Homo sapiens: one gene and its partners. The protein of the gene in region 1 purifies or fractionates together with the protein of each later gene. This does not show direct contact. Each region holds a gene or a part of one and is shown in the gene's direction. Other genes may lie near its edges. The genes, in order: SNX24, STRN and MOB4.

Evidence for each region.
Region 2: the proteins of SNX24 (region 1) and STRN purify together in Homo sapiens (affinity purification with mass spectrometry; 2 studies listed by BioGRID and IntAct, with this or other methods). This does not show direct contact.
Region 3: the proteins of SNX24 (region 1) and MOB4 purify together in Homo sapiens (affinity purification with mass spectrometry; 2 studies listed by BioGRID and IntAct, with this or other methods). This does not show direct contact.

What each region holds. Positions count from the first base shown.
Region 1 is NC_000005.10:123,002,613-123,006,112, forward strand, and holds part of SNX24 (sorting nexin-24), read left to right. Parts: intron 1-3,500. UniProt on the Homo sapiens protein: May be involved in several stages of intracellular trafficking.
Region 2 is NC_000002.12:36,854,816-36,858,551, reverse strand, and holds part of STRN (striatin), read left to right. Parts: intron 1-528; coding exon 529-696; intron 697-3,199; coding exon 3,200-3,340; intron 3,341-3,736. UniProt on the Homo sapiens protein: Calmodulin-binding scaffolding protein which is the center of the striatin-interacting phosphatase and kinase (STRIPAK) complexes.
Region 3 is NC_000002.12:197,536,464-197,540,199, forward strand, and holds part of MOB4 (MOB-like protein phocein), read left to right. Parts: intron 1-3,647; coding exon 3,648-3,690; intron 3,691-3,736. Other genes in the region: HSPE1-MOB4 protein, read left to right, coding at 3,648-3,690.

The sequences.
Region 1 (3,500 bases):
CAGAGCGAGACTCCGTCTCAAAAAAAAGCCTCTTCCCCGAAACTATGTGTATATACATTGCAGCATCTTTGATGGCAAACTATATATTTTTAAAAGTTGCATATTTTAAATACAATTAATTGATCTAAGTATAATTGTAATCAATATTTTCGACTGAGTCTTTTCTCTGTGCAAAGAAATTTAAATTCATCAGAGTCCCTCTCAAAGTGTTCTGTTATGCATCTCTTTATGAGCTCATTTGCATACATTATCTCATTTAATTTCCTTAACAACCTTGTGAACTAAGCAGGGCAGATATTATCATTGACTGAATGAGAAAATTGGGGTCCAGGGAAGTCCCTGACTTGTCCACTCTCAGATGGTTGATGGGTGGACCTCTTGTTGCCTATGTATTCCTTCTGTGCTCTTTGCATATAGTGAATCTTGTTTCTGGGAGTCACTAAATAGTAATAGATAAATAATCCATTGAAACCCTCCCTGTTTCTGACAATAAAACCTTATGAGCAGGAGAAAGGGAACTGCTCTCTATAGCAAGGATACACGTACTCACATCACCCACTTAGCTGTCAGTTTGAAGAAGGGTGGCCAGGACGCAGCCCTGCTCCTCCCTAGGAAGGGTTGAGGGACCCTTCCTAGTAGCACCCCGATCAGAGTGAGCTGCCTTTGCTGTATAGGAATATGACCTCATATTCTTTTTCCTATAAGATCCTCGCAGTGAAGAATAACTTTCTCTCTGTAACGTTTGCTTCTTATGTTTAACAAATATACATGTTAGTTGATGTCATGTTAAAATATCATATTTAACAAATATTCATAATGCAATCTAATATAGATTAAATAGATAGTTTTATAAATTATTCTTATTATCTTTGAAAAATGGCTCCACAAGCACTTTTTCCATGTATTGTTTATGCTCAGATATGTCATGCATCTGACTGAAATTCCTGCAGAAGTGTAGACAGTGAAATGGTTACTGTGGACTAGAATAGCCAAGATACTTGATAGAAGAGGGAAGATATTTTATGACCTTTAAATCCAATTCATACAGCTTATTGAGCAGTGCCTACCATGTGCTCTATGCCTGGCTTGGACAGTGAAGAACAGGAGGAACTTTCTGGGAAGAAACATCAGGGGTAAATGTCTTGAATTGGAAAGAGTAAAACGTATGTATCATTGGTAGCATGGTAATATGGATGAAGACTTGCAAAATAAGGGAACTCCTGTTTGAGAATAAATGGATCACAGGTTTGATGGATGGGATGGGAGGTATGGAAGGACCAGTCACCAGATCTGTTTTCTTGGAATTTTGACCAATCCAGTTTCACGAATCAGATTCTTGTGATCTTAGAAGTGTTATACTAATGATATATTCTTGCAAATCTTTAGCATTTAATTTAAAGAGAAACTTTACTTGCATCACATTTTTGTTATGATGCCTCTTAGCAAGATATTAAGGTTATTATTCCAGAGGATATTGCGTATGGAAATTTCTTCACAGATGTACTGACCCCGCCCCCTACAAAGTCAGAGGAGTGTCTGTCTTCAAAGATCTGACATTTAAGCATTATCCTCTTATAAAATACTAATAATCAAATATCCCTTAGCTTTTAACATTAGAAATCAGGAGAGTACTCTCTTAACAGATTGAAAAGCATTTGCCTTTTGGTCTTTGTTTTGATTTTCCTGGGAAACTCAAAACAACTCTTGCCAAAGTCCCCAGTGATTTCAGTGTGGCTGAAGCCCATGGATATTTTTCAGTCCTCATCTTCCTTGGCCTCTCATGGACTTTAGACATGTTGATCTGTTTCTCCTCCTTCAAACAGTGTCTCCCCTTGGCTTTCCCACTTCCTTCCACTCTCTAGCAGCTGACCAGAATGCTGTCATAGACCCTCTCCTCTTCTCACTACACTTCCTTTCAGATAATCTCCTTGTGTGTGGCCTGCCTACCACGTGTATACACCTGAGTCACAATATTGTATCTCCATCTCAACTCTGTCCTGGGAGCTCCAGACTCTTACCTGTGGTTTGTTTGCAAGGCCCTCTGTGGCCTGCCCCAGGCTCATGTTCCTACTGGACCTCCTCATACACTTTGCCCTAGCCACCCTGGAATTCTTTCTGGGCCTCAGATGTGCTGTTTCCTCCACCGTGAGCCTTGTTTTCTCCATCCATAGCCGGCTGCCTCTCATCTTCCAGGGCTCACATTGAATGCCACGGCTTCAGAGAGCCTGTGCTGATTCTCCCTCTCCACGAGCCCCTCTACCCATTCACAATACATGTTCATTAAATAAGCAAAAACCAACAAAAATAACAGCAAAACCTGCCCTAAATCACCTTCCTTCTCATCACCTCTCAATGAGAATCAAAGTCAAGGACAGTTTACTGAGTAATGCTGGCAATAATGGACATTGTAGTAAATCATGCATATGATGAAGCCAAAATCCACAGTTTAAAGTAGAGTGGAACGGATGAGAAAACAACCCAAAACCCTGATTATGTTATTTCTGATCGCTAGTTGGTGGACCTTGCTTTAAAACACCTCCATCCCATTCACTTTTTGTCAGAGAACCCTATTTGCTTCCTTCATAGTAATGGTCACAGACTATCTTATCTTTGTTCTTTGGCTTTGTCCTCTAAATCCCCAGCATCTAGCATATGTTCAGCTCTTGGTGGACATACATACAGAGCCTCAGCACTTGCTGTTCCCTCTGCCAGGAATGCCCTTCTCCCGGACACCCTCCCAGCGGGCTGCTTTGTTCCTTCCTGCAAGTCATCACCCAAATGGCACCATCACTCAAATTCTTCCCTCACTTCCCTGTCTCTGGGCCCTCTCCAGCCCATGCCCTGCTGTATTTTTCTCCTTGCCCTGTTCTTGTCACTGCTTAACATGTTACCAGCGCAGTAGAGTTACCCATAGTATGTAATGTTATTTTCCTTTATGTCTTTTTTGCTTAACTTATTTAGTTGAATCCTTTTAAGCTAAATATACTTACAATGTAATTTCACTGACCTTCAAATCGACTTCTATATTGTGAGTGGCAAAGAATAAAGGCATGTCTGCCACCGTCATGTAATATGTCCTATTTGAGTATCTTTTAGAAAATTAACAGCTCTATTTATGGCAATTGATTTTAATATCCTTCTATGTGGGAGAAATACATTTAGAATTAAAATTAACTTAGCTAAATTATTGTTTTTTATTGGGCTCTAAATATACATGTGTAAGGCCTATCACACGCTTTCAAAGATATATTTCATGAAAAACCATTACTTCATGTTGGGGAAAGGCATGCACTAAAAAAATCAAGTGTCATCAACCAGAAATAACTGGATATTCATGTATTAGAGATTTTCTAAGATATAGTTTGTGTGTTCATTCGCTTGTCTCCCCAATTTTTAAAACAGCCTATAAGGTAGATACTATTATGAAATCCATTTCACAGTTGAGGAAAGAGAGAGACAGAGATGTTCAATAACTCACCTAAGGTCACACAGGTATTAAG
Region 2 (3,736 bases), on another chromosome or scaffold:
GTTTGAGAATTTGGGGATTCCTGTAGATGTCACTTCCTGTCCATTATGAATGCCATATTTTCAGGAAAAACTGCCATCCATCATATAGTAAGATAAGTGAACAGAAGGAAGTATAGCCAAAGTGCTAAGGGACTTCAGAGAGGGAGAGGACCTCTCTGTTCACTTCCTCAGGGAGTGTGAGTTGTGGTTTCTCCAAAGATGAATTAAATTCAAATGATTTCGTATCAACGTGCTTTAAAAATATTTAGACAAATGGAAGGACAAAAGGAAGGGGGAGGAAATACTCAGTTTTTTTAAGGGGGAAAAATACGTGCTTTTAAATTTTAATTTAAAATTTTTTAACTTTATATTTGTATATTTCCAAGCTTGTTTTGATTTACTGTAGCCTGTCAGAAGAATAATAGAAACCAAGAATCATATTTTATACTGTTATCAGGTGCTATTGTTTATATATTTTACTTTCTCTGAAATCTAAGTACCTTTGTGGTTGTTTTTCTCCTGATTTTGCATTTTTACTGTTTTGTATAGATCCTTCTGTTTTACGAGGCCCTCTGCTAGGCCACACGGATGCAGTCTGGGGTTTGGCTTATAGTGCAGCACATCAGCGTTTGTTGTCCTGTTCAGCAGATGGCACTCTGCGTTTATGGAATACAACTGAGGTTGCTCCAGCACTAAGTGTATTTAATGATACTAAAGGTACATACTTTAAAAAATTATTTTGCTGAATCCTCTATAAAACAGTTTATTCTGAAAATAAGCAAGCAGATAAATGATTCCCTGAACTCTTTAAATTTAATTTGAAAGTTTTTGAAGCCACGAAAGTGTATTTGTTTGAATTTCCAACCTATATATAATTTTGTTTTGTTTTGTTTTGTTTTGTTTTGTTTTTTTTGAGACGGAGTATCACTCTGTTGCCCAGGCTGGAGTGCAGTGGCGCAATCTCGGCTCACTGCAACCTCCATCTCCCAGTTTCAAGCAATTCTCCTGCCTCAGCCTCCAGCACACACCACCACGCTCAGCTAATTTTTGTAGTTTTTTTAGTAGAGACAGGGTTTTGCTGTGTTGGCCAGGCTGGTCTGGAACTCCTGACCTCAAGTGATTCGCCTGCCTCAGCCTCCCGAAGTGCTGGGATTACAGGCATGAGCCACTGCACCCAGCCTATAATTTTTGAAAGCATAGTTTTTGGTGAAAGAACACACAGATTTTAGATTTTAAAAAATTAAGATATAATTTGTATGTAGTGAAAAACAGATATTAAGGATACATTTCAGTGAGTCTGATAGATGAGTACACCCATGTAACTCATACATCAATCAAGACATAGAATCCAGGTGTGGTGGCTCACACCTGTAATCCTAGCACTTTGGGAGGCTGAGGCAGGAGGATCACGAGAGGCCAGGAATTTGGGACCAGCTGGGCAACATAGCGAGGCCCTGTCTCTACATTTTCTTTAAAAAAAAAAAAGACTATATTTGCCCATTCTCGTACCACTATAAAGAAATACCTGAGACTGGGTAATTTGTTTAAAAAAAAAAAAGGTTTAATTGGTTGACGGTTCTGTACAGGAAGCATAGCAACTTTTCTTTGGCTTCTGGGGAGGCCTCAAGCAATTTACAATCATGGTGGAAGTCAAAGGGACAGGAGGCATGTTTTACATGGCCGGAGCAGGAGGAAGAAGGGGGTGGGACCTATTTTTAAACAACCAAATCTTGTGAGAACTCTATCACGAGAATAGCACCAAAGGGGAAAATCCACCCCATGATCCAATCACCTCCCGCCAGGCCGTATCTCCAATATTGGGGATTATGTTTGACATGAGACTTGAGTGAGGACACAGATCCAAACCGTATGAGAGATAGAACATTTCCTTTATCTCCCCAAAGTTCCTTCGTGTCTTTCCAAGTCAGTCCCCTCCTTTCCTTATTCCCAGCCAGAGGTACCCACTGTTGTGATTTCTTTCATCATAGATTAGTTTTATCTACTCAAACGTCATGTAAATGGAATAGTAAAGTATGTGTTCTTTGTATCTTGCTTTTATTCTTCATTATAATGTTTTGGAAATTCATTTGTGTTATATCAATTATTTCTTTCATTTTTATTTGATAGTATTTCATTAAGCCATAATTTGTCTATTCATTTATATCTTGATGGATATTTGGGTTGTCTCTAGTTTTTTGCTATTTTGAACAAGGCTGCTATGAACATTCATATATTTTCATTATAGGTGTGTAGAGACTTAGAATTGCTGGGCTTTCAGGTGGATGTTTATTTTACTTTATGTGAAGTCACTAAAAATTTTTCAAAAAAATTTTGTAGTTGTACCATTTTACACCTTTGACAGCAGTGTATGAGCATTCCAGTTGCTCTGCATCCTTACAAACATACAGTATTGTCAGTCTGTTTAACTTTAGCCATTCTGGTGGATGTGTAGTAGTATTTCATCATAGTTTATTTGCATTTCTTTGATGGCTAATTTTGATGAGCATTTCTTTTGTTTGCTTATTGGTTATTTGTGTATCTTCTTCTGCAGTATGCACATTTTTGAACTGTTACCTTGCTGTAGTTAGATTTTGAGCCAAATGAAAAAAATCAGATTATTATATTCACTTTATATGTTTCCTTCTATTTTTATGTTTATAAATAAGCTCTAAGTTTTCATGTATTCTAGATGGTAAATAAAAATACCTTCTGTATTCTTGAGCTATTATAACTTCTTTCCAGGCTTTGATGAGTTGTCTTCATATGGTATTTGCATGACTCTAACGATAAATAATAATTTTAAATTTTACTTTTTAATTTCTCTATTTTTGATGAGCTAACATCCCTAATAAGAGATGGGTTTTTTAAAATGAAGAATTCCCACTATGTCACTCTAAGCTTGAGGTTGGGCGGAAGCAGCAAAATTTGTAATTCATACATGTTTTCCATTTGCTCTCTAAATAAAGGCTTGCATTCCATGAATATATCAGTTGAGTAACAGGTAGAAGATCTGCTAAGCAGGTAAGGGAAATAAATAGACTAGGGCTAAAAGTTACAAAGAAATAATCTCCAATGAATAGTTATGAGCTAATTCTTATTCTAATGGTAAGCCTTGTTTACTTCTTAAGGAAACCATGCCATTTTTTGTTTTGCTCTATTTTAAGCAGATTGTCAAGTAGATGGTTTAATTGCCATTCTATTTCAATATGTTCTCTTTCAGAACTGGGAATCCCTGCCTCTGTGGATCTAGTGAGCAGTGACCCGAGCCATATGGTAGCATCATTCAGCAAGGGATATACAAGCATTTTTAACATGGAAACACAACAACGCATTCTCACTTTAGAATCCAATGTAGATACAAGTATGCATACCAATTTTAAATTGTCTGTGTTTATTTTTTTAACTTAATCAAAATTACGACTACTAGAGTCAGCTGTGAAAAATATTTGTCATTATAAAGCTTTCTGTCTCTTAACTTTCAGAACACAGTTACTTAGAAGGTTGTAATTATTTACCTTTTAAGAATTTGGGTTAAGTTTATGTACATTTATAACTATACTGTTTGAAATAGCATTTGAGCTGTTATGGGTCAAGTTTTATTTTATACTAAATGATTAATTTTCAATTCTATTTGAAGAAAGCCATATTTATTCTGAATAGGAAATTCTATTTTTCATTTCTCGTAATTTCATATTTTAAATCAACTTAATTTTATATTAATAGTATGATTTGGTACAGCTCAATACAGATCATGTTG
Region 3 (3,736 bases), on another chromosome or scaffold:
CACAGTGCTGGGATTACCACCATGCCAGCCTGGGTTTTATTCTTATTTCATGATTTTCCTTAATTGTATCTCTTAACCGCTAATATAGTATTTCCGTTTCCCCATTTTTGCATAACTGTGTCATCTTTTGTCTTTTTTTTTTTTTTTTTTTTTTTTGAGACAGAGTCTTGCTCTGTTGCCTAGGCTGGAGTGCAGTGGTGTGATCCCGGCTCACCACAACCTCTGCCTCCCGAGTTCAAGTGATTCTTCTGCCTCAGCCTCCCGAGTAGCTGGGACTACAGGCGCAGCCATGCCCAGCTAATTTTTGTATTTTTAGTAGAGATGGGGTTTCACTATGTTGGCCAGGCTGGTCTCGAACTCCTGACCTCATGATCTGCCCGCCTCAGCCTCCCAAAGTGCTGGGATTACAGGTGTGAGCCACCGTGCCTGACTTGTCTTTTTTTTTTCCTTTGTTTCTGTAGAGATGGGGTCTCACTGTGTTGCCCAAGCTGGTCCTGAAATCCTGGGCTCAAGTGATCCTCCCATCTCAGCCTGCCAAAGTGCTGGGATTATACAGGCATGAGCCACTGCACTTGGCCACTTTATGTTTTTGTAGAGGATTACTTCCAGTTCCTAGTCTAGGCTTGGTATCTGATAAGTTACCTGTAAATTATTGCAAACTTCCAGTCTTCTCTTTGGTAAATAGAGATTAATTGTAATCCTGAAGTAAGGAGTTTTGGTGCTTTTTATAATGCCCTTTGAATGAAAAAATTGATAACTAGTGGATAGGTGGAGATAACATTAAAAGTAGATATATTCTGAAGTTACTAGGTGTTTCTTGAAATTATAAATTTTCCAGTGCAAATGGGAGCTGGGATGAGTTGACAGATTATTAATAAATATAGAGAATGCAGTATGTGTTCATTGGGGCTTATTATTTGTAAGTTGATTTTTAGATAAATAGAGTAGAAATATGACTTTTCCTGAATAAATTAGACCATGTTTCCTGTGTTGTGTGCCTCAACTTGTAGACAAGGCACTTTTTAAAAATATTTACTTTTTGATGCTGCATGCTTCTTTAGAAATGGCTAAGACATTATGTCGTGTCATAACAGTTCAGCAATTTCAGGATGCTAAGACTTCTTTGTATCCTTTGCCAGTTTTTAGACAAATTACTTGACTATTTTCTAACTTTTTAATATATATGAATGCACAATAATTCAAAGTACGAGTCTGTAGATATTTTCCCATTTTTACAACCCAAGACAGAGAGCACTTTAGTGTAGTACATCCTTTGCTTTATTTTTATCAGCCTTGAAAATAACTGCTTTCTTATGTTTTTTTTCTTGAGACAAGAGTCTCGAGTCTCGCTTTGTCACCAGGCTGGAGTGCAGTGGTGTGATCTCGGCTCATTGCAACCTCCGCCACATGGGTTCAAGCGATTCTCCTGCCTCAGCCTCCCAAGTAGCTGGGACTACAGGCACACGCCACCATGCCCAGCTAATTTTTGTATTTTTAGTAGAGATGGGGTTTCACCATGTTGGTCAGGATGGTCTTGATCTCCTGACCTCACGATCTGCCCACCTTGGCCTCCCAAAGTGCTGGGATTACAGGCGTGTGCCACCACACTTGGCCGTTTTTTCCATTACAAGCATAATTCCTAACAAATAGGGGCTGATTTTAGTGTTACAAGGGTTTTTTTTTTTTCAGATCTAAGAAAACATTTATCTCCCTATTTAACTTATTCTATGAAACATTATATAAAACATTACATAAAACTTTACATGAAATATTTCTCACAAGTATTTCATTTGTTCTGGTGCTATTTTTACTTTTGTTATTTTTTTCTACTAGCCACTTTTTGGTCTGGGTTGTATATTAACTATCGTATATATTCTTTTATCTCTTTATTGTATTGTGTACATTTTATTAGTTGACCAGGAAGAGGTTTTTTTTTTTTTTTGCATACATCCTTTATTGATTTGAGGCTGTATACTTGCCATTTTTAGTTAATGCAGTTGATTATATAATGATGTTAATTTAGATTGGGTCATGACTTCAGTCATATCTCCCACTAGCTCATATTGAGTCTTAATGATTAGGAAAAAGTACTCCTTTATGTCCGGATACATGCGTGGTGACTGGAATGTAGGCTGGATTCCAGCTCTGGTTGGTCTCTTCAGCTGCACAACTGTGTACATGTTAGCCCTGTATTAAATTAACTTGAAGTTGTGAGTTTTGCATTATTTGCCACAGATTATACCCACAGCCCTGCTGAATCAACTTAATTTTGCTTTTGGCTATAAAAGGGTTGGGTAAGAAACTTACCACAACCAGTCTTTATTACCACTTGGTGGAAAACAACTAAAAAACACATAACATGCAGTCTACTTGATAGGGGACAGTAGAGGGTGATACGGTGATTTAGAAATAATGTTATTTTTGTAATCTAAGGACAGCATTATTAGGCATCTGGAAAGGAAATGCAGTTACAAACAACTGAAAATTTGACCCTTGCCTTTTTGTTTTCCTCTGTTACAATGTGCAGTAAGTAAGTAAATGAAGTTTTTCCACCAAATTTGTTCACATATATCCTGTTTTTTTCTTTTTTGGGGGGATTTTTTTTTGTCTTCTGATTATATAGGTGTTAGCTTTGCATTGTTTTGGGAACCAAAATGATTCAATTTTTCTGATGGGGAAACATAGTATTGATTTATCTAACCTGATACATTGAACTAAATATTAATAGGTAGGACTTTAGGAGGGAACACGTTCAGTGTTTTGACAGCTGTAAAACTACCTTTGTGACATAGAAGATTGTCTTTTTATCAAATAGCTGTCTAAAACTGATGGCCTCAGTGCAATTGTAATGTAATTTTTTTTTTTTTTTTTTTGAGATGGAGCCTTACTCTGTTTCCCAGGCTGGAGTGCAGTAGTGTGATCTTGGCTCACTGCAACCTCCGACTCCCAGGTTCAAGCAGTTCTCCCTCCTCAGCCTCCTGAATAGCTGAGATTGCAGGCACCCGCTATTATGCCCGGCTAATTTTTGTATTTTTGTGGCGATGGAGTTTCACCATTTTGGCCAGGATGGTCTTGAACTCCTGACCTCAAGTGATTCACCTGCCTCGGCCTCCCAAAGTGTTGGGATTACAGGCCTGAGCCACTGCGCCCTGCTGTAATTTCTTTGTATGTTTCTATGTACCAACATTTTATTACCCTCCAGTTGCTGAATTTTTCTACAATTCAGAAATTTTCTCATATGCATATATAGCTCCTGTGAACATCTTTATACATTTATCTGCATGCAGATCTGATTATTTCATTACAATAGATTCTTAGAAGAATGACTTAGTCGAAAAGTATACACTTCCTAAAAGTCTTGGTAAATATTTCCAAATTACTTCCCTGAAAAATTGTACTAATTTCTAGTATATAAGAGAATGATCAGCTCACTTAACTCTGGTATTGAATGTTATGAGGGTTATTGGTTTTCTATTTTTAATCTGTAAGCCTTTAGAAGAAATGTGTCATTGTCAGTTTAGGTGGTTTTGAGAATGGTAATGAGGGAGGAGGGATGATACTGATGGGATTCTCTTTTTGCAGCTAATATTCTAAAAATTGCTGTGAAGAATAGATATGACTTTTTATTTATGTATTTGCATTTTCAGGCAGTTCTGCCTTGAGCTAAATGGACTTGCTGTCAAACTTCAGGTAATATTTTCTTTAAGTCAAAGTTATAATTGAAAGTTCTGATTTT